Linked DNA regions of Homo sapiens: all the other regions are linked to region 1. Evidence: fine-mapped expression QTL. A gene starts in region 1. Each other region holds a variant in brackets. All regions are shown on one strand. Distances are from middle to middle.

Region 1 (4,065 bases):
TCTCTGCTGAGGCCTGGGCATGTGCAGGAGATGGAAAAACCCCAGAGAAACCCAGCCCAGGCTCTCGAGGAGCTCATAGTCCAGTGGCCTTGGTCAAATCCTTCCTTCTCCTCCTCCTCCTTCTCCTTCTCCTCCCCCTCCTCCTCCTCCTCTTCTTCTTCCTCCTCCTCCTATTCCTTCTTCTTATTCTTCTATAGAGATGGAGTCTCCCCATGTTGTGGGCTCAAGCAATCCTCCCACCTCGGCCTCCCAAAGTGCTGGGATTACAGGCATGAGCCACCACCATGCCCAGTCTCCTTTACCCTTCTTCATCTCTTCTGTGAAAAATGTGCTAAGATTCTGGCTCTTCCTCCCTGAACAGCTTGGTATGTGGACCAAGAATGGGCACACAAACATCATTTAAATACATGTGTTAAGTAAAATGTATGGAGGCCATTGGTTTTGTCTGAGCTCCTACACAAGGCCAACAGACCAGACCAAAATGGAGTCACTCATGCTGAAGTTCCACACCACCAGGCCCAAACGAAGGTTATCTGACCTTCCAAGAATCAGGAGAGAGACAATAGCTGGAGCCCCAGACAGGCCAGTTTCAGCGGGCATGATAAGGAAGTTCCCTCAGCTCTATCCTTTACAAGGAAAATAAATTGAAATGACTAATCCCCTTTTGTTTTCTGTTTCTCTCAGCCCCATTCTGTCTATAAAGCCAAACTCCTCTGCTCGGCTCATCAGATCATTCATTGTATTCTATAAGTGGGGTGTTGCCCAATTCTAGAATTGCAAATAAAAGCCAATTAAGATCTTTAAGATAAATTTTTTATAATTTTGTCTTTTGACATATGTAAAACAGGAAGCAATATCAACACATATAGGTCATCCCTGTGGTGCCGCCTCTCCACAGAGCCCCGTGCTAGAGCTGTGGATGCAGCAGGCCCCAAGACAGCCGCCTGGGGAGGATTCTCTTAGAGGTGGCATCTGAGGACAGACGTAGGGCCCCCAGCAGGTCCAGGGAGATGGGGTGGGCTGATGAGCTGAGTGGTTCCTAACAATGATTCACTGAGGGTGTGTGTGAATCTCTGAACTAAAATCCTAAACAAAGTGCAGGGTTCTGATAAATTAGAGCAAAATTCAAGTCCAGGGTTACAAAGTGGAGCCTGAAGGGGAGGCCTCGTCATGGAGAATTTGGGGGATCTGGGTTGGGGGCCCCACACCCACCAGCTGTCTGACCTGGGCCAGCTCTCACAATCTCTGTGTCTCAAGTTTCGTCCTCTGTGAAATGGGGATGGGACACACACCACCTGGACAGCTCAAGGGGGACAGCCCATGTGAGCCCCGGTGCGGTCCCTCTCCTCAGCCACCTCTTCCCCCACCCCCCCCCCCACCACACCCCAGACCTGTCCTGCCTCTCCCTAGGGTCCCAGCCTTCCAGAGGTGACTAAAGCCAATTGCCCAAGGTACATGGGTAAGGCGGATAAGCCTGGGCTTTGGAGTCGAATCCGGCTCTGCTTCTTCCCGTGGGCACCTTCGCTTCCATGGTCCTCAGTCTCTGTGTCCATAAAATGGAGGCAATTCCACCACTGTGTTGCGAGGACGCAGTGGGATGTCACACACGGCACAGCTGACATCTGGCAGGGGCTCATCATGGGACCCAGGCTATCCATGATGTCCCATGATTCCACAGTGAGGCCCTCTAGCTGTGAGGAGGCTTCAGGGTGGGAGCAGCCTTGGCACCTGCCGTTCCCCTCCTGCAGGGAGTTTGCCCTTCTACAGCAGAGGGCTAGACAGCTTCTCCCCCTCCTCCTCCTCCTCAGCCCCCCAGGTGCTGCCCTTCAGCCCGATGGACTGAGTCCCCTGCTGCGGTTTCTGGTTTCCAGGCTCCTGAAGGGCTTCTCCACTCTCTATCCCTCAGACCTGTTCCATCTTATTTCCAGGGGACCTGCCTCCTGCCCAGCGACCCTCTTCAGAGAGGTGACCCCCTACTCCCCGCTGGCAGACACGCCCCCGGCACGCCCTTACCTTGTCAGGATGGGGGTCTGGCTGACTCCCCTTCCCCTCCACCCTGGGCACCCTGAAAGAGCCAGGAAAGGAGGCAATGTTGGGACTCCGGGTGTGTCAGGGAGTAAGGGACAGAGGAAGAAGAGGTAGGGCTCCAAGAGGAAATGACTGGGAGCACTCTGGGCCCACGTAATTTATTACAGGACTTTGTCCCTGGGCTCCAGGCACTTCCACTCCCACACGCCTCCCTCAGCCCCAGCTGGCAGAGCCTCATGATACCTGCTCTTTAACCCAGGCCCCTTCTGCAGAGCAGCGATGCATGCTGCCCGGAGGCCACCAGGGTTTGCAGTCTGTGCACCTGCTCTGGCCACCAGCCAGATCCCATGGTGACAGTCAGCTGACCATCCGGGGGCTCAGCATCTTCCCAGGTGCTGCATGGCAGGAGCTCTGCCCCCAAGCACCCCAAGCTCTAATTGAGGGTGGTAGTATAATATAAAATACAGTATATTTGGTCCTTGTTCCCGGTTGGTGTCACAGAACTCCTAAAACCCTTAGAATTTCCAAAGTGATCGTCGGGCATGGTGGCTCACGCCTGTAATCCCAGCATTTTGGGAGGCCGAGGCAGGCGGATCACAAGGTCAGGAGATCAAGACCATCCTGGCTAACACGGTGAAACCCCATCTCTACTAAAAACACACACACAAAAAAATTAGCTGGGCGTGGTGGCGGGCGCCTGTAGTCCCAGCTGGAGGTTGAGGAAGGAGAATGGCGTGAACCGGGGAGGTGGAGCTTGCAGTGAGCCAAGATCGGGCCACTGCACTCCAGCCTGGGTGACAGAGCGAGACTCCGTCTCAAACAAACAAACAAACAAAAAATTTCCCAAGTGATCATCTCATAATGAGTCCGTTTGATAACACCTGAAGTTATGCTGAGGAGGTGACCATGTGGGGGCCCTACCTAGCCTCAGCATGGGGTCAGTCACCAGAAAGACCTAGTGAATAGAGGGTTGGAACTTTCAGCCCCGCCTACTGACCTCTGGGAAGGTAAAACTCTTGAACAAGATTTGACAAGCTTCCACACATCTGAGGTCCCTGGGGGGTGGCATGCGGGAGAGGGCATGGAAGCTCCATGACCTTCCCACACAACTCACCTGTGCGTGTTTATTCGGCTGCTCATCTGTAATCCTTTGTAAAATCTTTTCCCACGAACTGGTCAATATGAGTGCCGTCCTGAGTTCCATGAGCTATGCTAGCAAATCCAACCTCAGGTGTGGGGCATGGGAACCCCGATTTATAGCCAATTGGTCAGAAGTATAGGTGGCAACCTAGGACTTGAGACTGCATTTGAAGTGGGGCAGTTTTGTGGGACTGAGCCCTTAACCTGTGGGATCTATGACTCCAGGTTGACAGTGTCTGATTGAATTGAATTATAGGACATCCAGACGGAGTCTGCTGGAGAACTGCTTGGACACCTGGTCAAGAGAGTGTTCTGTGTTGAGTGTGAAAGGAGCATACACCTGGGACATGTCTGGGGCCATCAGGAAGCCTTAGAGACAAAGGCCATCAGACAACAAGGTTCCCAGGAGGGTACCTGGCAACAAATTGGGCAGGCTTGGGCTGGCACTTGATCAAGGGGGATTTGGGCTTAAGGCAAATACAGACTGTTTAGAAGGGAAGTGCAACCGCAGTGGGCCCTGGGTGGGGTCAGACTGGAGGGGCCAGGCAGTCCCTGGAAGTGAGCAGGAGGGCGAGGGGAGCTCATTTATGCAAGGCTTTGAAGGCGGGTGGATAATAGGGGCAGGTAGTTACCTGGTCAGCCACAGGCCTTGTGTTGGGTAAAAAAGGGGTCTGGTCATCCTTACAGTTGGCCCAACTAGAGCCAATCAGATTCCTTTCTTTTCCTTGGACTTGGAGGGACTTGGGAACTGCAGGCAGAAATGTGGGAATGAGCCATCGTCTTTTAGAACTGAGGTCAAGGCAGGGTGGCAACCCTGAACATGGACCTTTCGTGGGGACACAGACCAAGCGGTGGTGGGAGAGAAAAGGAGAGGTGGACAAGCTGCAGAGGTGGAGA
Region 2 (4,065 bases), 85 kb before region 1:
TTTTGGGGCCTTTACGTATTGTTCCCTTGTGTCAACATGCACAGCTACTGCAAGTTCACCTACAATTCCAGGGCTCGTGGGAGGGAGCCCCTGTGGGCTCGGGGGCAGGGTGAGAACAGAAAGAAGGTGCAGCGGAAGTGACCCACAGCTCCTGGTATAGGGCACCTCGGGTCACAGGGCGGGCACCTGCCGGGGTTAGGCTGGGGCCAGAGCTTTGTGTAGAGCCGGGTGCAGGTGTGCTCTCGCCACCCTGGCTGGCTGTTCTGAATGACCCTTCCTGAGAAAACAGCGAGAATTCACAGATGACACAGTTGCCAAAGCAGGTCGAGGTGGCACATGTGCCCAATAGCAATGCCACCAAGGATGCCAACCATGGTGTGACTACTGCCCTTGTCACCAAGTGAAATGCCCTTGGAGGGGAGTGCTGGAAGCAACTGGCGCACTGTAATGCTAATGAGTGGGTCCGGTGATCTTCCCCTTAGCTAGTAGGGCCCTAAAGGAATATGGATTTGGAGATGGGGGTCACGCCTGGGGAGGCCGAGCCCCAGGGGCACTCACAGGGACCACTGGCATGGGAGGTACTGCAGAGGAGATGGCGGGGCTCAGAGGACAAAGTTCTGTCCTAGGAGAAGGCACCCCATGAGCTGTGCTGGGGGTCCCTGGGGGTCTGCACCACCCCACCCTGCCCGCTCTCACCCCTGCCAGCCCCTACCTGCAGCTCCAGCCAGGTGGGGGGCTCCGCACGCACCCCATTGGCATAGGTGCGTCTCAGGCGCTCGGCACAGAAGGGGCCGTAGGTCGCCGGCCCTTGGCCGATGAAGTTCAGTAGATACTGGTGGGTGAGGAGGGGAGAAGGGAGGAAGACACTCAGAAAGGAGGCCAGTTTCTACTCACCACCCAGGTGGACTTAAGAATTATAATACTCAGTGTATAATGTGCATTGAGGGGCACCCTCACACCCGTTAGAAGGAACATGGATCAGTGTGTTTCTGAGGAGCAGTTTGGCAACACGTTTTAAACGGTGCATAGTCTTGATGTGTGCACACTCTTTGTCACAACAATGCAGGCCTATCCTAAAGGTGGATGTGTGGTTTTTGATTGTGATGGCCTCTATGGTGATGAATGACTGGAAGATGGACTCTAAATGCCCACCCCCAACCCCAGTGCCTTCTGGAACAGCGAGGCATCAAGCTGGCATTTGGGAGGTTGACACCATGAGAAAACATAATGAAGACAGTAAATGAAAAGTGCAGGGCCAGGCATGGTGGCTCACACCTATAATCCCAGCACTTTGGGAGGCCAAGGTCGGAGGATCACCTGAGGTCAGGAGTTTGAGGCCAGCCTGGCCAACATGGTGAAACCCCATTTCTACTAAAAATACAAAAATTAGCCTGGTGTGGTGATGCACACCTGTAATGCCAGCTACTCGAGAGGCTGAGGCAGAATTGCTTGAACCCGGGAGGCAGAGGATGCAGTGAACCAAGATCGCTCCACTGCACTCTGGCCTGGGCGACAGAGTGAGACTCCGTCTCAAAAAAAAAAAAAAAACAAAAAAAAAAATTGCAGAAGAGTCCATGTCCCCAACATGCTCAAGAAAACACATTGAAGTTCTTTTTGTCTCACAGAGAGATGTTATTTCTTCTGCCTTGGGGTGGGGAGGAACAGCCTGGAAGGGTTTACTGGTGTCAGGAGCAGCCTGAGTGCCATGCGCAGATGGCTTCAGTGACCGTGGTTCCTGCTGTCCCCAAAGGGACATGTGAGAAAGTGTTTTCTGTTTGATCACAAGGACCCTGTAACACCACAAAAGGCCAGAAGGAAATATTAA[C/T]GGAAGTTAGCTCTGAGTGTGGGGGTGACTTTTATTTTGGTTTTAGATGTTCTGCATTTCCACATATTACTTTTATAATCAGAATTTAAAGGCATATTAAATCAGTGAAGCTTGGGGCCACTAACACTCGGCCAACCCAGCTCCATTTTCAGTCCTAAGAACTAGAAAGAGGTGCCGTGGCACATCTCCAGGCAGGGCCCACTCCTGGACACCTGTCTTTTCAAGGCCCGTGTCATCTACCTTCTCATTTTAGTCTTGAAGCACCATCCTGACACCTGAGCCAAAGTGAAATGGCCCTGCAGACCCTGCGTAGGGGCTGGAAGGAGCCAGGAGCAGGGTCCTCTTTTCCAGATGGGGAAACTGAGTCCTGGAGAAGCATAGGCATGGCTGCCCATCTGGCCTGCAGGAGCAGGAGAAATGGGCCACGTACTGGAATCTGTGGACCTGCTCCAGGGCCAGGGGCCACCTACGCTCCCACCAGAACCTGCCCCCTGCCCGCCCTCCCTTCATGAACCCTCTCACCTTCATGAACCTCTCTGAGGGTGGGAAGCAGCCGAGGCAGAGGCTGAGCAGGATCCAGCCCCGGGCCAGGCTGCTTGTTTTGAAGTTCTCCGAGAGCTGCTTGCAGATCTGGCAGTAAATCTCATCCCTGAAAGACACAGACCATTAGGAGAGTAGGCTGGGGGCTGGAGGAGGAGAGGAGACAGGGGTACCTGGGCACACAGCTCTTGTGCACCTCTGAGAGGTCCCATATGCAGGGCACCTCTCCAGCGCCGGGGCCCTGCCCAGCCTCCTCCTCTCTCAGGACAGTGCCACCAGGCTCTGCATCCCTACTCGATTCCTCTCCCATGGCCTGTGCTCTCGGTCCTTTAGGGTGGGGCTCGGCTTCAGGAAGCAGCAGGTTCTCCAGCCACAGCCCTGTCCTCAGCAGCCGCGCCCTTTGCACAGCCCATCTGCTCCCAGATGTGCGGGATCCCCAGTCTCACGGTGATTACAGTCATTTCTCTCTCTGCCTTGAGGCCCCACCTCCCTCCCTGAATGCAGCCCCTCCCCTCCACAGCAGAGAGAAAAGTGAGGACTTCATGGGAGCCACTCAACCCCATCTCCTGACCATTCCTACTCCCACGGTCTGTGGAGCCTCCCCACTCCTGGTGGGGGTGTGTTGGGGGCGGTTCTCTCCTGCGTCCTTCCCCATGGACTCAAGCCTCTATCATGTTATAAAAGTGGCCCATTAACACCTCAAATGCCACATCTCCAGAGGCCAGCATCTTTCCCCTAATACTCAGTGGTGTGCTGGTAAATGTTTATCAACCAGCTCCCCCAAGAAGAAAAGCCCAATTCACAGCATTTGCTTATTTCTGTGGTGTACATGTTCCCACCAAAGCCAATGTCAACTGCGACACGACATCACCGAACAGAGATGGGAAGCAATGTGCATGGCTGGCTCTCTGAGTTCCTGCATCCCTCCTCTTTCTGTGGTCTACAGGCATCGCCATCAGCCATTCACCCAAACTGGAAATCTGGGGGTCATCCTGGAGCCCTCCCATCCCTTCATTCCTCCAATCCAACCAGCCCCCACCATCCATCCAGCCCCCACCACCCAGCCGGCACCCACTACTCAGCTGGCGCCCACCACCCAGCCGGCCCCCACCATCCAGCCCCCACAACCCAACCAGCCCCCACAACCCAACCACCCCCCACCACCCAGCCAGCCACCACCATCCAACTGGCCACAACCCAACCAGCCCCCACAACCCAACCACCCCCCACCACCCAGCCAGCCACCACCATCCAGCTGGCCACCACAACCCAACCAGCCACCACAACCCAACCGGCCCCCACAATCCAGCTGGCCACCACAATCCAACCAGCCTCTACCATCCAACCAGCCCCCACAACCCAACCAGCCCCCACAACCCAACCAGCCCCCACAATCCAACCAGCGCCCACCATTCAGCCAGCCCCCACAACCCAACCAGCCACCACAATCCAACCAGCCCCCACGATCCAACCAGTGCCCACATGCTACCATCTGTCTCCTGCATGTTTCCTCTGTCCCCTCCTCTTGGCTCCTGTTCCTTGGGCAATTCCTCATCAGCTCTCTCTGGATCTCTGTAGCAGCCCTGCCTGGCCTCCCAGCCCCAGGCTCCATCCTGCCACATCGCCAGGGAGGTCTTTCTGGAAGTCAAATATGATCAAGATCCTCTCTTGCTTAAAACTTTCCCCACTTCCCTTAGGAT
Region 3 (4,065 bases), 39 kb before region 1:
GCCAGCGTTGGGCTTCTCTGCAGCTGTCGCGGAGGGTGGAGCGGCACAAGCTCTTTTTCCTCCCTTCCACTGGCTACTGGGAGGCGGCAGGTGGGCAGCTCACCATGGTCAGGTAGTGGTACTCGGAGGGCGTGCCCAGGCTCAGCAGCTGCTTGTCCTCAGCACTCACCCCCATGAGCATGCAGTAGAAGATATGGTAGTTCCGCTCCTCGGGAGCCTGGGAGGGAGGGAGGGCATTCCAGACAGATTCATGAGCCATTCCCCTGAGGCCTCAGGGCCTCAGACTGCCTCTGCCCAGCCCAGCCCTGGCCTCCGCTCCACATCTCTCAGCCAGGAGCAGCTCTGGCACTGACCCAGGGCCAGCCTGGCTTGGTTGCTGTCCCTGTCCCGGGCCTCCGCGGCTGTCTCATCCCTGCCCTGAGAACTCCATTTCCCTGCATCTTGACTGCTCCTCGAAGCCCTGACACTGCTGTGCCCAAAGTCTCCAGGCCAGGAGTGATGGCACAGAGTCGGGGCTCTCTTATAGTCCCACAGTCTTCACAGGCACTTAGTGGCCCACGAGAGATCTGACAGCCACGGGGCTCCCTAGGCCTTCAGTATTTTTTTTTTTTCCGAGAGAAGGTCTTGCTCTGTCACCCAAGCTAGAGTGCAGTGGTGCAATCTCAGCCCACTGTAGCCTCGAAGTCCTGGATTCAAGCCATCCTCCCACCTCAGCCTACCAAGTAGCTAAGATCACAGGCACACACCACCACGTCCGGCTAAGTTTTGTATTTTTTGTAGAGATGGGGTTTTGCCATGTTGCCTAGGGTGCCTTCTGTATTTTTTAAAACACTATTTATAAATGCATTCTCATACAAATCAAACAATCTGAAGCATATGCAGTAGTGTTAAAAGATGGGAGTCTCAGTTGGGCTGTAATCCCAGCAGTTTTGGGAGGCTGAGGCGGGAAGATTACTTGAGCTCAGGAGTTTGAGAGCAGCCTGGGCAATATAGTGAGACCTCACCTCTACAAAAAATAAGAAAATTAGCTGGATGTGGTGGTAAACACCTCTAGTCTCAGCTACTCAAAAGGCTGAGGTGGGAGGATCAAAAACAAAAAAATGAGAGCTCCTTTCCATCCTGCCTTCCCCTTTCTTAAATCCCCTCCTCCCCGCCCCAGAACCTAGACATGTTTTTAAAAAAACATTTACTTATAGTATATCTATAAATAGTTATCTCTTTTCTTTTCTTTGTTTCTTTTTTTTTACACAAAACATATTTGTGGTTCTGCTACTTCCTTTTTTTTCACCTAAACATATCTCTTGGTGATCCTTTACATTGACATGGACAGACCGCCTCCTCTGTAGTATAGATATGCCGTAATTTTAAATTCTTTCTCTTTTCTTGGGCAGGCCTTGTTTCTCACCTGCTTTAGAAATTTCCTGCCCATTTCAGGGTATCATTTTGGGTGACAAGTTCTATGAACTCAGCAACCACTATATCAAGAAATAGGAGCTTCCAGACAGGGCAGAGAGACTCTGCCATCTGCTGGCTCTGTGACCCTGGACAAGGGGCCGAACTTAACTGGACTCAGTTTTCTCATCTGTACAATAGGGATAAAGAGACCTACCTCTCATGGTTGTGAAGGTCAAATGAGATAAAACAGGAAAAGTATAGCACCAGGTCGGAGGGTCACTAAATGTGACCTTCCTTCTCAGCTTGTCACAGTGCGGAGGCATCTGTCCCTCTCACACAGCCACAGCCCCTCTGTTGGTGGCATTCTCCCCTCTGGACCCCTTCTGTGTGTGTGCACTCATTTGCACACATGCATGT[G/A]TTAGGTGTTATGCCATCATACGAGAGCACCCCCTTACACTCACACACACACACAGGTGCATTAATTCTGCTGTTGTGGGTGCCATGTGTTGGGATTCCTACCATTTGGGACTGGCTACATGATCGCCCAGTGCAAAAGGAAACCATGGGCCCTCTTGCTAAAAAGCTAGTAAGAATTTCAAGGTGGCAATAGCAGAGCATGAAACCAAGCATGGGGCCCCCTGAGCACAGGGCCTGGTGTGACAACACAGGCCACATGCCACTGTACTTCCTGGCCATGTGGTATTTGGGATACTGTCATCTGTGTCTTTCTGCCATGTCCCCTAACATACCTGAAGATACGGCCCACCCAACTAGCCTAGTCTCAGAATTAATTCTAGTAGGGATGAGGAATGGTAGGCACCAAAGAAAGAAGAAATGTATGTGAATGGAAAATTCAAAATGGAGAAAAGTCTTTTTTGAGACAGAGTTTCACTCTGTTGCCCAGGCTGGAGTGCAGTGGTGCAATCTCAGCTCACTGCAACCTCTGCCTCCTAGGCTCAAGCAATTCTCATGCCTCAGCTTCCCAAGTAGCTGGGATTACAGGCGTGTGCCACTGCCTAGCTAATTTTTTTTTTCATATTTTTTGTAGAGGCAGGGTTTTGTCATGTTGGCCAGGCTGATCTCAAACTCCTGGCCTCAAGTAACCCACCCGCTTTGGCCTCCCATAAGTGCTGGGATTAGAGGCGTGCGCCACCAAGCCCTGCTCAAAATGGAAAAATTTCTATCATTTGCTGTCCTGGAATACTGGGGAAGGGCCCTCATTATCCAGTGAGGCCTGTGGGTTCTGGGAGGGCCCTTGGGGAAGAGGGGAGGAGAGGTGAGAGTGGGAAAGGGGCCCCTCTTGGAAACCTCCCCCATTCCCTCAACTCCCGACCTGGGAAGGGGGAGGCCTCACCTGCCGGCAGACCCGGGACTTCTCCAGGAGAAATTGCTCGATGCGCGCGCCCTCGATCACCCCGCTGGGGTTAAAGTAGATGTCAATGTACTTCCCAAAGCGGCTTGAGTTGTCGTTGCGGATTGTCTTGGCATTTCCAAAGGCTGAAGGTAAGCGGGCGATGCCCATGATGGGAGCAGAGAGGAGAAAATGTAATTTGAGTGGGATCATGTAAGAGGGCTTCTCAGAGGAGGTGGCCAAGCCTCGAATTGAAGAATGGGCACGGCTGCACCAGACAGTGACGGAAGCCAAGCGCCCGCTAAGAGGAAGACAAAAATGCAGGGAAAACCTCGGAGGTCAGAAAAAGCATGGAGTGTGCTTGCAGACGCAGAAATCTTGTCAGAGTGTGGGATGCAGGAGGAAAGCAGTGGAAGGTAGACAGAACTAGTTAGTAGGTAGGGCCAGGTGGCACAGAGCCTTAAATGCCGGGCTCAGAACTTGGGCAATCATTCTGCAGTAATAAGGGAAGCAGTAAAGCTTCTGAGAGAGTGTGGGAGCAGATTCACAGCTTAGAAAGATGGCTCAGGTTGCAGGGCTGAGGCTGATACGGAGAGGCCAAGCCGGCATGGGGAGTGCCAACAGCGTGTCCAGGCCAGGGCACACGGAAGTGGTCAGTCTTTTTTGTAAAGCTGTTTCTGCAAGTTTTCTGATGTGATCCACAGTAAGAAAGATATTTTGCATTACATCCTAGTATATACACATGTCCACCTGCACACACAAAGTTAGAACAAAATACTCAGTACTAGTTCTTATGAAGAGTGACGTGCTGGGGTGTTTCTATTCTATGATATTTGATTTGTTCTAGAAGACTGATTTTATGGCCCATTAATGGTTAGAATGCAGTTTCAGAATACCAGCATCCAGCATAGTCCCATGAAACGAAGGAAAAGGGTTCCTTGGGGAAGTAGGTTTAGGAAACACGGCACCCTGTCTCTCTCTCGAGGAATCCCAATGCACAGCAGAGCCTCTGAGAAGTGCCACCATTACGAAACCTGTTTAACTTATTGAACCCAGTGTGGCCATCATGGGGGCGACTGGTTGGGTGTCTCTTTAAGAAAGAATCTGATGCAGGCAGTTTTTTTTTTTTTGGTACTAACTGACAGGCTGATCTTAAAATGTACTATATATGGAAAGGTAAATTACCTAGAATAGCCAAGTTTGAAAAAGAATAACAAAATTGGAGGGCACATGCTATCTGATTGCACCGCTTCCTATAGAAATCAAGACAGTGTAGCACTGGTGAAAGAATAGACAGAGAGGGGAATTGAAGATAATAG
Region 4 (4,065 bases), 28 kb before region 1:
CCCACTGCCCCTCAGGGGGTGCGGCAGGCAGAGCCTGCACAATAAGCCACATGACCATGGTGTCCTGGTTTTCACTTTAGGAAAGGAGAGGACGTGCCCTCTGGCTTCAGGCTGTGCCACCAGATGAGGAGTGCAGGCAAAAGCCCTTTGGAAGCACAAGCTGCTTTCCTCTGAGCAGCCCAGAAGGGCCAGTCAGAACCAAGCTAGCCACCCCTCCAGACCAGAGAGGCCCAGGCAGGCAGTGGCTTCTGCAGGCCACACCTACTTAGGCCGAACTGGTGTCGGTTTTGGAATACCACCTCCCCTGGAAAAATCTGCATTGGAACCAGGATGAGAGCTTCAGGCTGGAGTGAACCTCCATCCAGGCCAGGTTTGCACGGAGGGCCCACATCCATCCCCATGGCCCCCTCGTCTGGTGAATCAGGACCTTGGGATCTGGGCTGTCACGGGCCTCACTCTTGGGAGGCCAGGGGCTTTCTGTCTAGTGACTCTGTCTCTACAACATGCCTGGGAAGGAGAGGGCAGAGGATGATGGCCACCTGATGGCCATCTGCAGCCCTCACTGAGCAGAGACTGTGCCAGGCACTGTGCTGTCACTCTACGCATTGGCTTCCTCCCCTCCAGGGTGGGATCACCCTCCTTGTTTGGGACTGGGCAGCAGAGATTGGGAAAAGTTAGGCACCTCGCCCACCTCCCTCAGTGAGGGCATGGGGGGCAGTGCCCCCTGTGCATCATTTTCTTCTCCCTGTCCAGGAGGTTGGCACCTGTGAGGGGCTCCCCTGTGGACACAGGGCTGGGGAGACTCACATAGATCTTGTGCTGCTGGTAGCGGATCAGGAGGTTGTGCACCATGCCTGCCTCGTTCAGGTCCCCCAGGCGGATCATGTCGTCCACACCCTGGACTGAGTTGGGGTGCATGGGACTGAGGACACCAAAGTCCTCTGCTCGGATCCAGTGTTCCTGGAACAATGGGTGCAGACTCCCCTGAGGGGTGGCCTCCATCCCCATGGCCAGCCTGCCACACCCTCCCCTCCAAGTTCTCAGCAGCAAGGTGACCTTCCGGGTCATGGATCAGCTGACCTGGGGCAGTGGCCAGCCTCCGGCCAGGGTCAGTCTATGACAAGGGTCAAGAGACTCCTGTGGCAGGATCCGGTCCATCTATGGCTGGGTCAGCATGGGTCTAGGGCCCAGGGTTAGGGCGTAGCTGGGGCTAGGGCTGAATTTCAGACCAGGGACAAAGGAGCTTATAGCCAGAAGTTAGATTTAGGGTCAGGTTGCAGCTGGGAGCCTTGCAGGTTGTTGGAATAAGACTGTGCAAGTAAAAGCTTTTTTAAAAAACTACAGTGTCACACAAATAGAAGATATTGTTATTATTTTACTGACTTCCATCATCTGGAACTCACAGGCCACAGCCTAGAAACTTCTCCTTGGAGGCTAAGCCTGCAGCACCCAGCTGAGCACAGAGGACAATCTGAGGAGCTAAGTGACCGGCTGGACACTCCATTGTAAGCCCTTCCCTGCTCACCACCTAGCTGGCCCTGACCCCTCTGGTGGACGAGCTGGTCACTCCCGGGCCACTCCAGCTTGCTGGCCTCTTACTTGTGCATTTTGCCCCGTCCTGCCCCTCCACACACCTTCCTCACCCACCTTTCCCCCTTGCCCGTTTCATTTTGCAAACTGGCTTTCTGCCCCTCTGGCCCTTCCAGAGCCCCTTTCCCACTTCCCACTTCCTTCTTGAAACGTTCCCCAGGACACACAGGCCATGTTCTCCATGGCAGGACTCCACCGTGATCTGTCCTGCCACCCAGGTCCCCACTTGGCCTTGGAGCCCCTGGTGTTGGGGAGAGGCTCCACAGGGCGGGGAGGGCTCCAGGGCCCTGGATGTGAGGGCAGGGCAGGGCCCAGAGGAAACCCCAGAACACTGACCTTGCCCTCGTCATCTTCAACCAAGACTTTGCCTGGCTTTGCCTCTTTGATGATGCCCCCGATGGCCACGCCGGTCTTGTGGGTGGAGGGAGGCTCCAGCCACACGTGGTCACCCTGGAGGGCAGACAGAAGACAGTGGTGTGATCCCCGCTCTCTCTTCCCCTCCCTGCTGGATACTTACTTCTCTTCGGGGCTATGCCTTCCAGCCCAGAGCTCCCAAGGTGGCTGGAGCTTGTCTCTCCTTTCCTCTCCTCCCCTCTCCCATCTCTCTTTCTCCCTGCTCACTGGGCAGGTACCAAGCGCCTGTACAGCTTCTCTCCATGTCTTTGTCTTGTCTGGGACAATAAGCTGACAAGAACAGGAGCTCTGGTCTCACCACAGCACCTCTCATAATGAAAAAGAAACTTGGCTACTATTTAGGAAGGTGGTGTGGCTGAGTGGTTAAGAGAGAAAGTGCTTCTCAAGCTTGATGACGGTAGCAAGAGTTGCATCCTCTCAGAAATCACCCACAAGCAATAGGAGGA[T/A]GAGAAACAGAAACGAGCACTAGAAGACGCAGGAGGAAGCTGAAAAGGTGGCCCCAGCTGTAGGTTCCAGAAAGAGAGGGCAAAGTTCACTTCTCCAAGGCAGGAGCCCATCCTGGCATGCAAAAGCAGCATGTCTTGCTGCAGCAGTAGGAGCAAGGGCACAAGGTGGCAGGCGGAGCTTGCCTGGCCTGTCTTGGTTCTAGGAAACACCATATTTGCAGGTCTTCCATATTTGCAGGAAGCAGTCTCTCTGTGGGGTGGGAAAAGAGAAGTCTTGCCCTGTGAAAAGCTCTGCAGTACCCAGATCTATTGGGTGGGAGAAGCCACTACTAAAAATTCACATGTGAGATTTCTGCTAGCCTGCACTGTGGCATTGACACCTCATGAACCTCCTTCTAATCCAAGAAAGCTCACCCCATCTGAAGAGAAGTAATCCAAAAGGAACCAGCACAGTTCTGTGTTCGGAGGTACTGAAACCCAAGAGGAGGAAAGGAGCAAATAATACTCAGCAAAAGAGAAATAACTGCCACAGAGCAGTAGGAAGTTGTGACCAAGTATTTCACCATAATTTACAAAAACTGACCAAAGAGTAGGTCAGAGGCAAAAGAGCCCAGGAATTAGATGGGGGACAACTGAGAAAAAGGATGAGACATGAGTTGGCAGAGCCGAATGAAAAAATTGAGGAAATGAAAGAAATGCAGACCAGAATGAAAGCAAAATTGGAAACAGCAGGAGAACATACCCTGATTATAAAAACATGGGAAGAATCATAAAAGGTAGGAAGGAGAAAAGTGAGCAAAATGATATAGAATTTGTTAAAAAATTAGAATTAGGGGCTGGATGTGGTGGTTCACACCTGTAATCCCAGCACTTTGGGAGGCCAAGACAGGCCAGGAGTTTGAGACCAGCCTGGCCAACATGGAGAAACCCTGCCTCTACTAAAAAAATGCAAAAATTGGCTGGGTGTGGTGGCTCATGCCTGGAATCCCAGCACTTTGGGAGGCTGAGGCGGGCAGATCACAAGGTCAGGAGTTCAAGACCAGCCTGGCCAACATAGTGAAACCCCATCTCTACTAAAAATACAAAAATTAGCCGGGTGTGGTGGCAAGCACCTGTAGTCCCAGCTACATGGGAGGCTGACGCAGGAGAATTGCTTGAACCCGGGAGGCAGAGGTTGCAGTGACCGAGATCATGCCACTGCACAACAGCATGGGCAACAGTGCAAGACTCCGTCTCAAAAAAAAAAAAAAAAAAAAAAAACAATAAAACCCCACAAAAATTAGCTGGGCGTGGTGGTGGGCGCCTGTAATCCCAGCTAATCAGGAGGCTGATGCAGGATAATTGCTTGAATCTGAGAGGTGGAGGTTGCAGTGAATTGTGATCGTGCCACTGCACTCCAGCTTTGCTGACAGAGACTCTGTCAAAAAAGAATACATAAATAAAAAATAAAATAAAATTAGAATTAGGAAGAAGATCGCTATAGAAGATGGGCAAAAATACAAGTAAACCTCATTATATGGACTGAATTGTGTCCCTCCAGAATTCATATAGTGAAGCCCCAATTCCTGACATGACCATATTTGCAGATAAGGCCTTCAAGGAGGTAATTAAGGTT
Region 5 (4,065 bases), 54 kb after region 1:
TTAAAATTATACTAAATATCAGCCTGGACAACATAGCAAGACTCCATCTCTACCAAAAAATTAAAAAATTAGCCGGGCATGGTGGCATACATCTGTAGTCCTAGCTACTTGGGAGGGTGAGGTAGGAGAATCACTCGAGCCCAGGAGTTTGAGGCTGCAGTGAGCTAGAATCATGCCATTGCACTCCAGCCTAGGTGAGACCCTATCTCTAGAAAACACACACACACACACACGCACACGCACACACACACACACACACAGCCCAACCCCCCCACCCCACCACCCCCCGCCCCGACCAAATTATAATTTTGGTTATTTTCCTTCATTAAACCACCTAGTCGATTTATCATTTTTAATGGCTGCATAATGGTCTATCCTGAATATAATTTGCTTTTTTTTTTATTATGTATTTTCTTTCTTTGTAGAGATGGTTTCACCATCTTGCTCAGGCTGGTCTCAAGCGATCCTCTGGCCTTGACCTCCCAGCGTGCTGGGATTACGGGCGGGAGCCACCACACCCGGCCATGAATATAATGTGTTTATTCGTTCGTTTATGATTTCTGATTTTTTACTCCTAAATAATGTAGTAACCTGTGCTACATTGTATTTTTTATATGTTCATTTACTCCGTGGAATACTTCTAAAATAACAGTAAAATGACAAAGGAATGCCTATTTTTTCATGAACTTTTAAAAATACAGAAAGCATAAATAAAATTAATGCCATCTGTAATCCCACCACAACTTAATGTTAACATTTTAAATTATTTCTTTTTTTTTCATACATATGCATAGACAATTACTGGGTTTTTGTTTTGTTTTTTGTTTTTTTTTCAAGCGACATTGTGATTGTATTCTTTTATACCTTATTGGGTTTGTTTTTTACTTACCATGGTAAAAATCCATTTGAGTGAGCATTCTTGAGTGGTTTTGCATTGTGTCTTCACACAGTTGTACCATAATTGAAGCTGCTTTTGGCCTTGCTCTGGTAAAGCAGTGTAGCACACACTCTTAATTTCTAAGGAAGTGTAGCGTTCCCTTGATGAATCAGGAGAGAGATCATTGAACTTGGTGTATGAGGTACTCTGGTCTGTCTTTTCAAGCTTGGGGTAAGTAGGCATCTGCAACTACCAGTCATATATTTTGTAACCCACTGGCCCGTGTGTGCCCTGATTGCTGAGGCTAGACAGATCCATCAGGGCTTAGACAGTTAGTGAGGGTCCTGGGAGTAGGCGAAGGGAAGTCCAGTTAATGTGTGAAGCTGCTGGGAATTGTGTAGTTGGCAGAGATTTGAGCAGGTAAAGCTTCCGATGTGGACCAAGTACAAGTACTAAGATCACGGCACATCCTCTAAAAGGAAGTCAGATATTTGGGACTGTCCAGGAAATCTGGGAGATAGTGTGATGGTGGCATAGCTCTTTCTCATCTGACACTTTTTATGCTTACTCAGAGTACGAATGCCAAGTATTGAGACGATACAGAATAATATTTGAATTGAGATATTCCTAGAAAGACAGGTCAACATGGCTCTTGGTCAAGAATGACTTAGAGTTCCTTGCCTAGTGCTCAGCTGGCTTCATGTCATAGTTGAGGCTGGGTCCACAGGTGGGATAAGATTCCACCAAAGCTCACCAGGCTGGTACTGACCCCAGAGTGTCTCCCAGGCCCTACCTTATTTTAGCATTCTTTTGAATTGAGTTTCAGAGGTGATTCAGTAGTAAATGTATGGGGAGAAGAATTAGAAAAACCCATCTCTTTTTAAGCAGTCATCATTCTTAAACATCTGAATTGTTTTACAACAGAGTCAGCAAACCTTTCTAGCATTTCTAAAAGATGGCAGTTTCTTGGAGACCACATCTTTGCAAGGCAGTATTTTCAAAATATAAAATAGCCCCCAAACCAAACCTTTAAACATGAAGGGCAAATGGGTAAAGACTTAATATTCTTTTTGTGTCAAGTATACTTAATGTAAATCTAGTTGCTTGTGAAGTAGTAAAATAGTAATAGCTCCTATTATTTTGAGCACTGACTATATGTGCTCAGCCTCTGTGCTTGGATCTGACATCACTATCTCATTTCCTTCTCTCAGCAGTTCTGGAAGGAGTACCTACCCTGGGTATGCTTTGCCCAGGGTCACAGAAGTTACTGAATTAGAGCAGGGATTCACCCCAAGTGTAAAAACTCAAGAGCTCCTGCACTTAGGGGTTTACTTCACTAATCATCTAACCTCATTTATTATGCTTAAGGCTTTTTCTCAGCTGACCTGACTTTGCTTTAGGTCATTCTTTTTTATGCCAGCACTGTTTGAAAGTGCATGTCAAGCGGCTAGCTCCACATTTGGTCTTC[G/A]AAAGGGAAACGCATGCAGTTAAAACGTAATGTACATGATGGAATTGGGAGGATCATAGTCTCAGTTTCCCCCCCCCTTTCTCCCATCTAGGAGACCTCCATGGACTGCAGCAAAATTAAAAATAAAGCACAGACAACAGAATTATTCTTCACTGAGAGAGTTTAATATGCGTTTCTAACACCATCTATACTTGCTTTGTTGTTCTTGAGGTCATCAACACACATTCTGGTTATTCCAGAGCTAGAAGCTCTTCTGGTTGCTAACTCAGTTATAAGAAGATGAAAGACATAACTAGACTTACGTATTTCAGTAGTTTGCTCTTTAATTTTTCCCTTACTCTTAGTTTCAGGCGACCTCCAAGAAGGGTATCAGTCGACTGGATAAACAGATGAGAAAGTTCACAGATATAAGGAAAAAAAGCAGATCTGCACACGCAGTGAAAATCAGCATTGAGGGCAACAAAATGCCATTGTGACCTTGCCTGGAATGTGTCCCCATCTCTACTCTAAGAAATGCGCAATGGACTCTTTGGAGAAAGAAGATATTTTAAAACATTTTTAGTGTGTCTGTAAATGGTTCAGCGTGTATCAGATGTTGTCATAGGACTCACATTTCTCTCAGTTATATTTAAAACCGTTGTGTACTTTGTACAAAGGAATACTAGTCATACTTCTATAAACTTTACACAATAAAATTTCATTCTGGTTTTTGGGGGGCTGTCTCTTCATTTCTTAGAGGATACATTCTTAATAGGGGCAAAGATTGTTTCTTGTTGTGTGGGAAAAAATCTTATGATATTATAGGGGTTTGTGACCCTTAGAGGTTCAATCCTCCCTCATTGTGGTATAATGAGGAATTTGTGTGGCCTTTGCCCCTGGTTGCTGACAAGGAATGTCTAAAACACTTGTGGTTTCCTGAGTGATAGAGCGTCTCTTGTTATGCTAACGAGGTGACTGTATGGTGGGCTTTAGGGTGGAGGCTGGTAACCAGAAACAGCTACTACAGAGGGTTGGGCCAGCAGGACCCGGGAGATTGAGACGCAGTCAGTGACCTGTTTGATTTAATCAACCATGCCTGCCAAATGGGACCTGATGAAGAGCTCTGGACCCCACAGCTCAATGACGCTTCTTGGTTGGTGAAAGCATTGGTGTGCTGGGAGGGAGAGGATTCCCCTCCATGAGGACAGGGGCACAGAAGCTCTGCCTTCCCTCCCAGACCTTCCCTTATGTATCCCTTCATTTGACTGGCCCTCCTAATTCATATCTTCTGTAGTAAAACTAATCATAGTGTTTTCTAGGGAAGGATAGTGCTTTCCTGAGTTCTGTGAGTCATTTCAGCAAGTTCTTAAACCTGAGAGGTTTATGAGAACCCCAAATTTGTAGCTGGTCAGAAGCGACAGTAGCCTGGATGCCTCACTTGTGGCTTGCATCTGAAGTGGGGGCAGTATTGTGGAGGACTGACCTCTTAAACCCGTGGAGTCTGATGCCAGCTCTGGGTGTGTCGTATCAGAATTGAATTGCAGTACCTCAGTTGGGGTGGAAATGGAATACCAACAAAATCTTATTAATGTGTTTCTCTTATTTGGGATAATTATTTTGATTTTCATTTTTCTCTGGGATGGGGGCTTATAACAGAGAAAAGATCAAGAAATACTACTGTCTTCAAGGAAATATGGATATAACTGAAAATCACTATGCCGAAAGCTTAGAGCAGTTGAGC
Region 6 (4,065 bases), 130 kb before region 1:
GTGTTTTCTGCATCTGTTGAGATGGTCATAGAGTGTCCTCCCTATATTCTATTGATATGGTATATTACATTGAATTTTGGATGTGAAACCAACCCTATGTTCTTGGGATAAATCCCATTTGGTCACGGTGTATAATACTTTTTATAGAGTGTTAGATTTATTGTATTTTATCGAGGACATTTGCATCTATGTGACTTTAGCATTTTATTTTGAGATCAAGATAATATTTATAGAATGAGTTGTGAAGTATTCCCTCCTAGTCTTTCTTTTCTTTTGTTTGGAAAGATTTTGTGAAGGTTTGTTGTTTTTTGTTTTTTGTTTTTTTCTCTTTTTGAGACAAGATCTCACTCTGTCACCCAGGCTGGAGTGCAGTGGCGTGATCTCAGCTCACTGCAACCTCCGCCTTCCAGGTTCAAGTGATTCTCCTGCCTCAGCCTCCTGAGTAGCTGGGATTATAGGCATGTGCCACCACACTGGTGTTTTGTATGTTTGTTTGTAGGTTTGGTGTTAATTCTAGTTAAACCTTTGATATAATTCATCAGTGAAGCCATGTCGCTCTGGCTTTACTTTGTGACAAGTTTTTTGGTTACTGTCTCAGTCTCTTTACATGTTACTGGCCTTACTAAGTGATTTGGGTAGGCTTTGTGTCCCCAACTAAATCTCATCTTGAATTGTAATCCCTATAATCCCCACGTGTCAAGGGAGAGACCAGGTGGAGGTCATTCAATCATGGGGGTGTTTCCCCCCATGCTGTTCTTGTGATAGTGAGTTCTCACAAGATCTGCTGGTTTTATAAGGGGCTCATCCCCCTTTGCTTGGTATTTCTTCCTGCCACCTTGTGAAGAAGGTGCCTTGATTCCCCTTTGCCTTCTGCCACGACTATAAGTTTCCTGAGTCCTCCCCAGCCCTGTTCAACTGTGAGTCGATTAAACCTCTTTCCTTTATAATTTACCGAGTCTCATGAAGTTCTTAATAGCAGTATGAAAATTTAGACTGATACATTTGGATTTTCTATTTCTTCTTGAGTTCGTTTTGGTAGTGTCCTTCTAGGAATCTCTCCATTTCAGTAGGTTATTTCATTTATTGGCATACAGTTGTTCATAATATTCCATTCTGCTACCTCCTTACTGGGACCACGAGCTATTATTATTCAAGGAAGCCATGGAGTTAGGGAGCAGGAATAAGGGACTAGGATAAGTTAAAACAACACAAACCTCACTGGTTTGTGTTTGTTTGTTTGTTTACCAAGATTCATCTGTTTTTCTTGACCAAATGTTCCTAGGGTTACTGAAAACCTTTGGTGGATTTGCAGAGTTCTGAAAGAGTAGATTCTGATAATTTTTGCTAGGTTTTTCATTGCTTTTATGGAGGGATGAACTTCTGGAGGTCCTTACTCCACCACTTTCTGCTGACATCACTCTCGGTGTTTTTGCAAATATCTAGAGCCAGAGCACTGAACCAAATCCCATTTGGTCATGGTGTATAATACTTTGTATAGAGTTCTAGATTCAGTTTACAGTATCTGTGGCTCCCAATCCCATCCCTGCAGCAGGACAGGCTGCAGAATGGGTGGTAAGGTTGTGCAGAGATTTGGGATTTGGGCTCAATCAGACTCTAAGCCTCTCTCAATTTCTAGCCTTCGATGTCCGCTTTTATAGTAAATATTTGTTGAATTGATTAGTACTTGGTAAACTTGTGCTTGAACTTCATTTACAGATTATGTTGCACAAAACACTTGTGGCTGTAGCCTCCTTTCCAGTGCTATATGTGACCCTTGGAGCCCTAAATAAATGTTTCCTCCTTACAGAAAACTGCGGGTCTGCATGAGAGTCCTGGATTCTAGTGTTGAGGATTTCCACATGGATGGGCTGAGTCGGGAGTGGTGAGAGGGTCTAGGCCCTATGGCATTGACTTGTAGCTGCTGTTAAGAACATTTTCGGTGTAAGTTTTCTTAAGCATTCGGCTACCTACATCAGAGAGTCAGCGGTATTCCCTATTCATTTTGGCTCCTCTGGGCTCAGCTTCTCCATGCCCTTTAGCCCCTGGGGCCACCTTTAAAAACTATTTGTTGAACTGATCAGTGTTGGGCAACTTTGGAATTGGACTACATTTACAAATTATACTGTACCCAATGCTTGTCGTCACTTGACTGCCAGGGTGCTTAATGAGTACCTCCTCCTGTTGGGACTTGCTGGGTGAGTGTGTTCCTCAGTGGCGTGTGGGCCTGGTATCTGAATGCCAGTGAGCCCCTCCAAGGCTTTCTCCCACCCTAGTTTGGGAGGATCAGTGCCCTGCTGTCTTTAGTGACGGCTGCCAGCTCTTGCTTTCAGAAGGCAGAAGAAGATACTGCTCAAGCTTTCTGACCTTTCTAGAAAGGTCTTTCAGGGAAATGGGATCAATGCTAAAGATTTCCATGAGTGCTCTGGATCTTTATTGTACTGCTGACCAGGCT[T/C]ACCTTGGTCACAGTTTGGATGCCTACCGCGGGTGTTTATGAATCACAAGTAACTTTGCCAGTCTCTCTGGGTAAAAATGCGGGGTACATGGTGCCTTCCTGGTGGTTGCCACCAGGTCCCTCTGCGTCTGCTCCCCTGGAAGCTGGAGGATTGCCTTTTCTCTAAAATAAGGACCTCTTTTGGGGTGCCTGACCATTTGTTGGCCAGATCCAGAGGATCGGCTCTGCCCTGGTCTGGGTGCCCCACGGTGATGTTTGTGGCAGAGGGTCTCAGAGAAGGGAGCAAAGCAGAATGTGGGCCTGTGTGGCTCCGGTCCTCGGTTTCCTAACTGTTGGCAGGGATCCTAAAGGCGCCAGGTCCTCCCTGTCCTCCTCAGCTGACTCTGCCCTCCTCAGTGTGTCCACGGGCACAGGCTTTCCTCCTGGCAGGTGGCAGCCGGAGACCTCCTGGGTGTCCTGCCGCCACTGTGGACCTCACCTCAGTGCTGTCTGGGGCCTTCCCAGACCAGTCCCCTCCCAGCGGGACCCAACCCCCGCCAGCCTCAGCTTTCAGGAGCTGCCCCCGCGGCGCGAACAATATCCTTTCTATTTGGAGTTGACTCTGCTGCCCTTTGGAGATCCCAGCGCGTAACGTGAGCTCGCGACCAGCGCGGGGGAGGCGCCCACACGCCCGTCCCGTCTTGGTGTCTGGCCCCAGGCGGCCGCGCCTCCCCTCCGAGGTGGTCCCATAGCCCCTGCACCAGGCGGCCCGCGCCCGCGACCTCAAGGCGGCTGCCCCGCGCCATGGCGGCCCGGCTGGGTGCGCTGGCCGCGTCGGGGCTGTACCGGCGGCGCCAGCACCGGCAGAGCCCGCCGCCAGCCACGGGGTAGGTGGCCAGGGGCGGGGCGGGTGGCGGGGACAATGGCCGGAAAGCTGCGGCGGCAGGGCAGGCCTTCCCTCGGAAACCCGACCGGGGCCCTCCGACGCCGTGGGCTCTGCCCCGGCGTCGGATGGGCCCTGGGTTGGCGACAGGGTGGGCGCGTGCGACTTTATCTAACAGGGTTGGATGTCACCTGTGATCAGCTCTCCTGGCAGGGTGCGCCCAGGGACCTATGTTAGAGACGAGGGAGCCTGTGTAGCCCCCAGCACTGCTTTCAGACGGGGGTGATCATGCTGCACTTTATAGATGAGCAGACAGGTTCTGAGCAGAGCAGACACCTGCTGGACTCACCCACCCCAAACATGGCTATGCTGTGATTTGAACCCAGGTTAGACTGACTCCAGCAGTGGGGTTCAGGATGGTCCTCAGGGCATCTCAGAGAATGAGTTGGCTCTGGATGGGGAGGTTGGGAGGGGCACGGGGATGGTGGTGGAGCCACCTCCCCTCACTCTTGGGGTCAGGGGCATGAGGAGGAGCTCCTGAAAATGTTGCCTTTGCAGTGCCGAGGGGCCAGCGGGGAAGAGAGAGCAATAGGGCTGTGACCTTGGGGTCCTTGGCATCAAGGTGACAGATAGGGACCCTGGGGAGGAGGCCAAGGCTGGGCAGAAGGGCTGGGGCGGGGGGGCAGGGAGGGAGCCAGGAACATAAGTCGCAGAGGTAGGGGAGGGCCTGGAGGACCCAGGAGCAGAGGAA
Region 7 (4,065 bases), 140 kb after region 1:
CTGCACCCCTCGGATGGGTAGGCATTTTGAGGGCATGAGGTAGGCGTTACAGTGATAAGATACACAGGGCTCTAAACCACAGAGGCCCCGGTTCAAATCCTGCCTCTTCTAAGTACAAATTAGTTGGCTTTGGGAAGTGAGTCAACTTTGCCCCGGGCTGCAGTTTCCTCGCTGTCAAATGCATGGGAGAGGGTGTGTGAAGAGTTAAAATGTATTTAGATTTCACTGTAGTGTCTCCTCCAACATGATCTCACACTCCTTTTACAGTATAAGCAGGCTGATGTCAGAGGCTGTGACTCGCCCAGGGCTACACAGTGGACAGGTGGCAGAGCCAGGAGCCAAGGGGTGGTCCACCTGCCTCCATGAACCCACGCTCCTCCCGCTACCCCTTCTGTGGCCAGGTGAGAAGCAGGGAGCTGGCACTGCCCCAACCCAGATTCCTCAGCAGGGAGGGCCTGGCCGCCTGGGCCCAGCCTGAAACCCGGGAGTCTGTTAACCTAGGCCCAGAGGCCAGAGTGCGCGGCGGTGATGAGTCACGCCAACCCGCTGCACCAGGAGACCCCTCTTCCCGGCCCACGCCCCGGCCGAGAGCTGGTTGCTGAGCAATAAGACATAACATATATAAATAGATGCGACTCCTGCTGTAACAGGGAGGCCCGATTCTTGGGCTGCTGTTTTTTCCTTGCCTCTCCTCTGCGCCCCTCGGCCTTCCTCCCAGCGGCTCCTGGTGCAGTCGGTTCCATCCTCAGCTAAGAGCTCCCAGCCCTGCGTGCCAGGGGACTGCCTTCAACAGGATGGTCCGGGATGGACGCGGGCTGGGCGTAGCTGCGCAGGGCAGGCCAGGGGCGTGGAAGGAGGCAGGGGCGCTCCGCCGGGCTGGACTTTTACCACCCGCGGGGGCTAGGCGAGGGCGGTGAAGCGGGCAGGACTGCGGGACACTGGATCAGAAGGGGCGGGTGGAGCCAGCTCCTGCGACTGGCGGGAGTGCGCCCGGTTCCCAGCAGCAGAGGGGCCTCTGCTGCCCTGCTCCCCATTCCCCTCATAAGTGACTCCTCCAAAGGGCACTTTTCTTATTCCACCTTGCATCACTGGTACTCACCTTCGCTGCAGAACGCCTTGCCAGCTTGCTTCCTGGCTGGGCCTGCTGTCTGCACAGTTGCCCTGCCCAGGTCTAAGACCGTGGGGCGTGGTCACAGGTACTATTTTAGGACTCCTCTCACCACAGGCACTGAACTTGGGGCTGCATATATATCACCCCATTACTCCTCAGAAGATACTGTAACGTAGGTATCTTTTATTGGCTGTATTGAGGCTTAATGCATCCATTTTAGGTGTACAATTTGATGAGTTTTGACAAAAGTATAGTCTTGTAACCACAATCACGATGTTCATGACACAGAATATTCCCATCACCCCAGGAAGAAGTTCCTGCCTCTTTGCAGACCATCCTCCCCTCTTGGCCCCTGGCTATATGTTTTGCCTTCACTAGAATTTCATATAAATGAAATTTATGTAAGATGTAATTTTTGTCTGGCTTCTTTCACTGAGCACAGTGCTTCTGAAATTCGTTCATGTCATCAGTGGTTTGCTCTTTTCTCTGCTAACCAGTTGATGAATATTTAGGTTGTTTATGACTATTATGAATAAAGCGTGTAGAAACATACATGTACAATTATTTGTGTGAACGTGTTTTCATTTCTCCTGAGGAAATACCTAACACTGGAATTGCTGTTTCATTAAGTTATTGTTATTCCCATTTTATAGATAAAAGATTGAAGCTCAAAGAGGTGAAGCAGCTTGCCTGAGCTCACACAGCATGGCAAAAATTCAAAGCCATGTCTGAGCTCTACACCAGGTAGTCACTTGTACAAAAAAGGTAATTTTTGGAGTCAAAGGTCCTTGATTGGTAGATAAATTACCACATATGGGCTGAATTCCACTGTATTCTGGTTTGTAGCTTGTGGAAATAGACACTGAGCCCAAGTTGCTGAGCACTACACGCAGAGAGGTCACTCTTTGAAGGCATTTCAGCAGGTGACTTCTGGGAGCTTAGGCTGCAGGTCTGCAAGGTTTTTGTTAGTGTTGTGAAGGTAGTGTTGGCCAGGTTTCTCCACTGTAAAGTCATGATTACTCCACTATAATTACTAAATTGAGAGGAGAGACATTGAGACTAAGAATCCGATTCATTGAGCTTTCACCCACTAGTTTCAATACCCAGCGTGAATTCCTAACTCCTTTCCTTTCCCATTTACTAGTTGTATTATTCTGTTAGGGAGAGCTTTTCCTTCTTCCTCAGTTATGTTTATATAACTATGTCCTCAAGGATTTTATTCTATGGAATCTAATCCATTACCATCATTGTTTTAATGTTTGATGTGTTCCAACTTTGGCCAGAAGCAGTCTCATTAAACTGACTTCTATGTCCTTTTAACGTGCTCCTGTGATTCTCTGAGCACTTCCTTACTCTCAGGTATAAGATATTCCAAGCTCTTGCTCTTCTCCTGTACCAGCCCTGGTCC[CT/T]TTTAGTAGAGAATGACATTTAGAAACCAAGATCTGGGTGTGAGATGAACTTCTGGGTACTGGGATGTCACAGCTTCTACGCCACCTCAGTCTGCAGGTTTTTAAGGCAGCAAGTGAGGTGAAAGGCAGGGCCATGAGATTGGAGTTGTAAGCTACGGACTCAGCAAAATCAGGCTGCTGGTGGTAGGATGTCTATAACAAGTGCAGTGAGCTCACTCATGGGCTCACAGGGTGGTGGAACTGGGCAGTCAGTCCAACCAGGCAGTGGTTTCTCCACTCAGAAACACCTCTGTAGGCCGGGCACGGTGACTCACGCCTGTAATCCCAGCACTTTGGGAGGCTGAGGCAGGCAGATCACCTGAGGTCAGGAGTTCAAGACCAGCCTGGCCAACATGGCAAAAAACTCTGTCTCTACTAAAAATACAAAAATTAGCTAGGCGTGGTGGCATGCACCTGTAATCCCAGCTACTTGGGAGGCTGAGGCAGGAGAATCACTTGAACCCGGGAGGCGGAGGTTGCAGTGAGCCAAAATTGTGCCACTGCACTCCAGCCTGGGCAACAGAGTGAGACTCTGCCTCAAAAAAAAAAAAAAAAAAAAAGAAAGAAAGAAAGAAAGAAACACCTTTGTAAATTTTACACATTTATAAATCTTTCAGCTCTTTCTGCCTTGCTGTAAATTACTTCCATGACAGAGGACCTGGGAGGCTGGTTTTCTAGGATGGTGGGAGGGTCAGGGACAGTGTGGGGGACACATGGAGAAGGGTGGCCTCAGGGGCTTCACATTGTGGACTGCCACGGTGATGGGAAACTTCACAGATCTCTCTTGGCAGACACTCTGCTGTCCTCAAGGCTGATCAGCTGGCTGGCTTGGGAGAGAGCCAATGACTGGAGGGGACCTCAGGAATCAGAGGTGGTGACTCATAGTGGGAGGCCACAGTCTCAGAGTCTGGTTCTCTGAAAAGAACCACGCCTTCCGATGGTGTTTGGCACCTTCCATTCTGAAGGGCCTGCTGGCTCTGGGGTCCACCGGGGCTGAGGCAGTCCTGGGCCTGTTGTGGGCAGTGGGTGGGAACAAGTGCCATCTATCTCCAGTGGCTTTCATGTGCGTCACCCTGCTGGCCTCCACCACAATCTTGGGAGCAGGATGCCTTTTTTTGTCTTCCAGACATTGAGGCTGAGAAGAGCAGGCACAGGTCTCCGCCGACTCTCGTGTTCTTCACAGTGCAGCCTGGCCAGAGTTACCTGGCCCAGCTGGCAGCCGGCGTGTGAGGCCACAGGGAGCCTGCTCTCTGAAACTGAGCAGCCTTGGCAGTCTGGAGGGCCCAGGGGACAGTGGCATTCTGCTTCTCAGGACAGACTCTGTGCAGCTGAGCTTCAGCCAGGCTAGCCTATGGTGAAGAACCAATGCCAACCTTTGTGACTTGACTTGCAGGAAGCAGTTGGGGAAGGATCTACATCGCACTGGGTCGAGGCATATGCTGAGCTGTGAGGATGAAGATAACTACCTCCTCACTCATTTCTGCAACATGGACCCCCTGGATGGTG

Direction of the effects. Positions count from the first base shown, and alleles are read on the strand shown. Sizes are in standard deviations (SD) of each study's normalised expression. Not every link is listed here.
As copies of T replace C in region 6, the expression in visceral fat of the gene that starts at base 2,162 in region 1 goes up (small effect, 0.26 SD a copy in GTEx).

What was found. PIP is the estimated chance that this variant, and not a neighbour inherited with it, causes the effect.
Region 2: its variant is fine-mapped to the expression of MYO7B in whole blood (INTERVAL, PIP above 0.99).
Region 3: its variant is fine-mapped to the expression of MYO7B in whole blood (TOPMed, PIP above 0.99).
Region 4: its variant is fine-mapped to the expression of MYO7B in whole blood (TOPMed, PIP above 0.99).
Region 5: its variant is fine-mapped to the expression of MYO7B in blood mononuclear cells (TOPMed, PIP above 0.99).
Region 6: its variant is fine-mapped to the expression of MYO7B in visceral fat (GTEx, PIP above 0.99).
Region 7: its variant is fine-mapped to the expression of MYO7B in whole blood (INTERVAL, PIP above 0.99).

The regions. Positions count from the first base shown.
Region 1 is chr2:127,533,780-127,537,844 of GRCh38, reverse strand. It overlaps MYO7B (myosin VIIB), which reads right to left and starts at 2,162. Exons shown (of 48, transcript NM_001393586.1): 1 at 2,014-2,162. RefSeq lists an enhancer at 1,280-2,130.
Region 2 is chr2:127,618,749-127,622,813 of GRCh38, reverse strand. MYO7B (myosin VIIB) reads right to left here. Exons shown (of 48, transcript NM_001393586.1): 27 at 2,348-2,474; 28 at 713-832. Among named protein-coding and RNA genes, the nearest start is that of MYO7B-AS1, 10 kb to the left of the region's middle. RefSeq lists an enhancer at 2,566-2,615. The variant C/T (reference allele first, on the strand shown) is at 1,826.
Region 3 is chr2:127,572,747-127,576,811 of GRCh38, reverse strand. It overlaps MYO7B (myosin VIIB), which reads right to left. Exons shown (of 48, transcript NM_001393586.1): 7 at 2,750-2,892; 8 at 104-217. Among named protein-coding and RNA genes, the nearest start is that of MYO7B, 39 kb to the right of the region's middle. The variant G/A (reference allele first, on the strand shown) is at 1,813.
Region 4 is chr2:127,562,128-127,566,192 of GRCh38, reverse strand. MYO7B (myosin VIIB) reads right to left here. Exons shown (of 48, transcript NM_001393586.1): 3 at 1,927-2,040; 4 at 808-960. LOC105373609 (a long non-coding RNA gene) reads left to right here. Exons shown (of 3, transcript NR_132317.1): 2 at 1,406-1,505. Among named protein-coding and RNA genes, the nearest start is that of MYO7B, 28 kb to the right of the region's middle. RefSeq lists enhancers at 2,088-2,187, 2,498-2,547. The variant T/A (reference allele first, on the strand shown) is at 2,451.
Region 5 is chr2:127,479,800-127,483,864 of GRCh38, reverse strand. IWS1 (interacts with SUPT6H, CTD assembly factor 1) reads left to right here. Exons shown (of 14, transcript NM_017969.3): 14 at 2,690-3,053. The coding sequence ends at 2,821. Among named protein-coding and RNA genes, the nearest start is that of IWS1, 45 kb to the left of the region's middle. RefSeq lists an enhancer at 3,107-4,058. The variant G/A (reference allele first, on the strand shown) is at 2,346.
Region 6 is chr2:127,663,559-127,667,623 of GRCh38, reverse strand. The region is part of intron 1 of LIMS2 (LIM zinc finger domain containing 2); the gene reads left to right. Among named protein-coding and RNA genes, the nearest start is that of LIMS2, 9.9 kb to the left of the region's middle. RefSeq lists an enhancer at 3,720-4,065. The variant T/C (reference allele first, on the strand shown) is at 2,453.
Region 7 is chr2:127,397,790-127,401,854 of GRCh38, reverse strand. It overlaps MAP3K2-DT (MAP3K2 divergent transcript), which reads right to left. Exons shown (of 4, transcript NR_187129.1): 4 at 1,275-3,908. Among named protein-coding and RNA genes, the nearest start is that of MAP3K2, 12 kb to the right of the region's middle. RefSeq lists an enhancer at 665-1,377. The variant CT/T (reference allele first, on the strand shown) is at 2,520.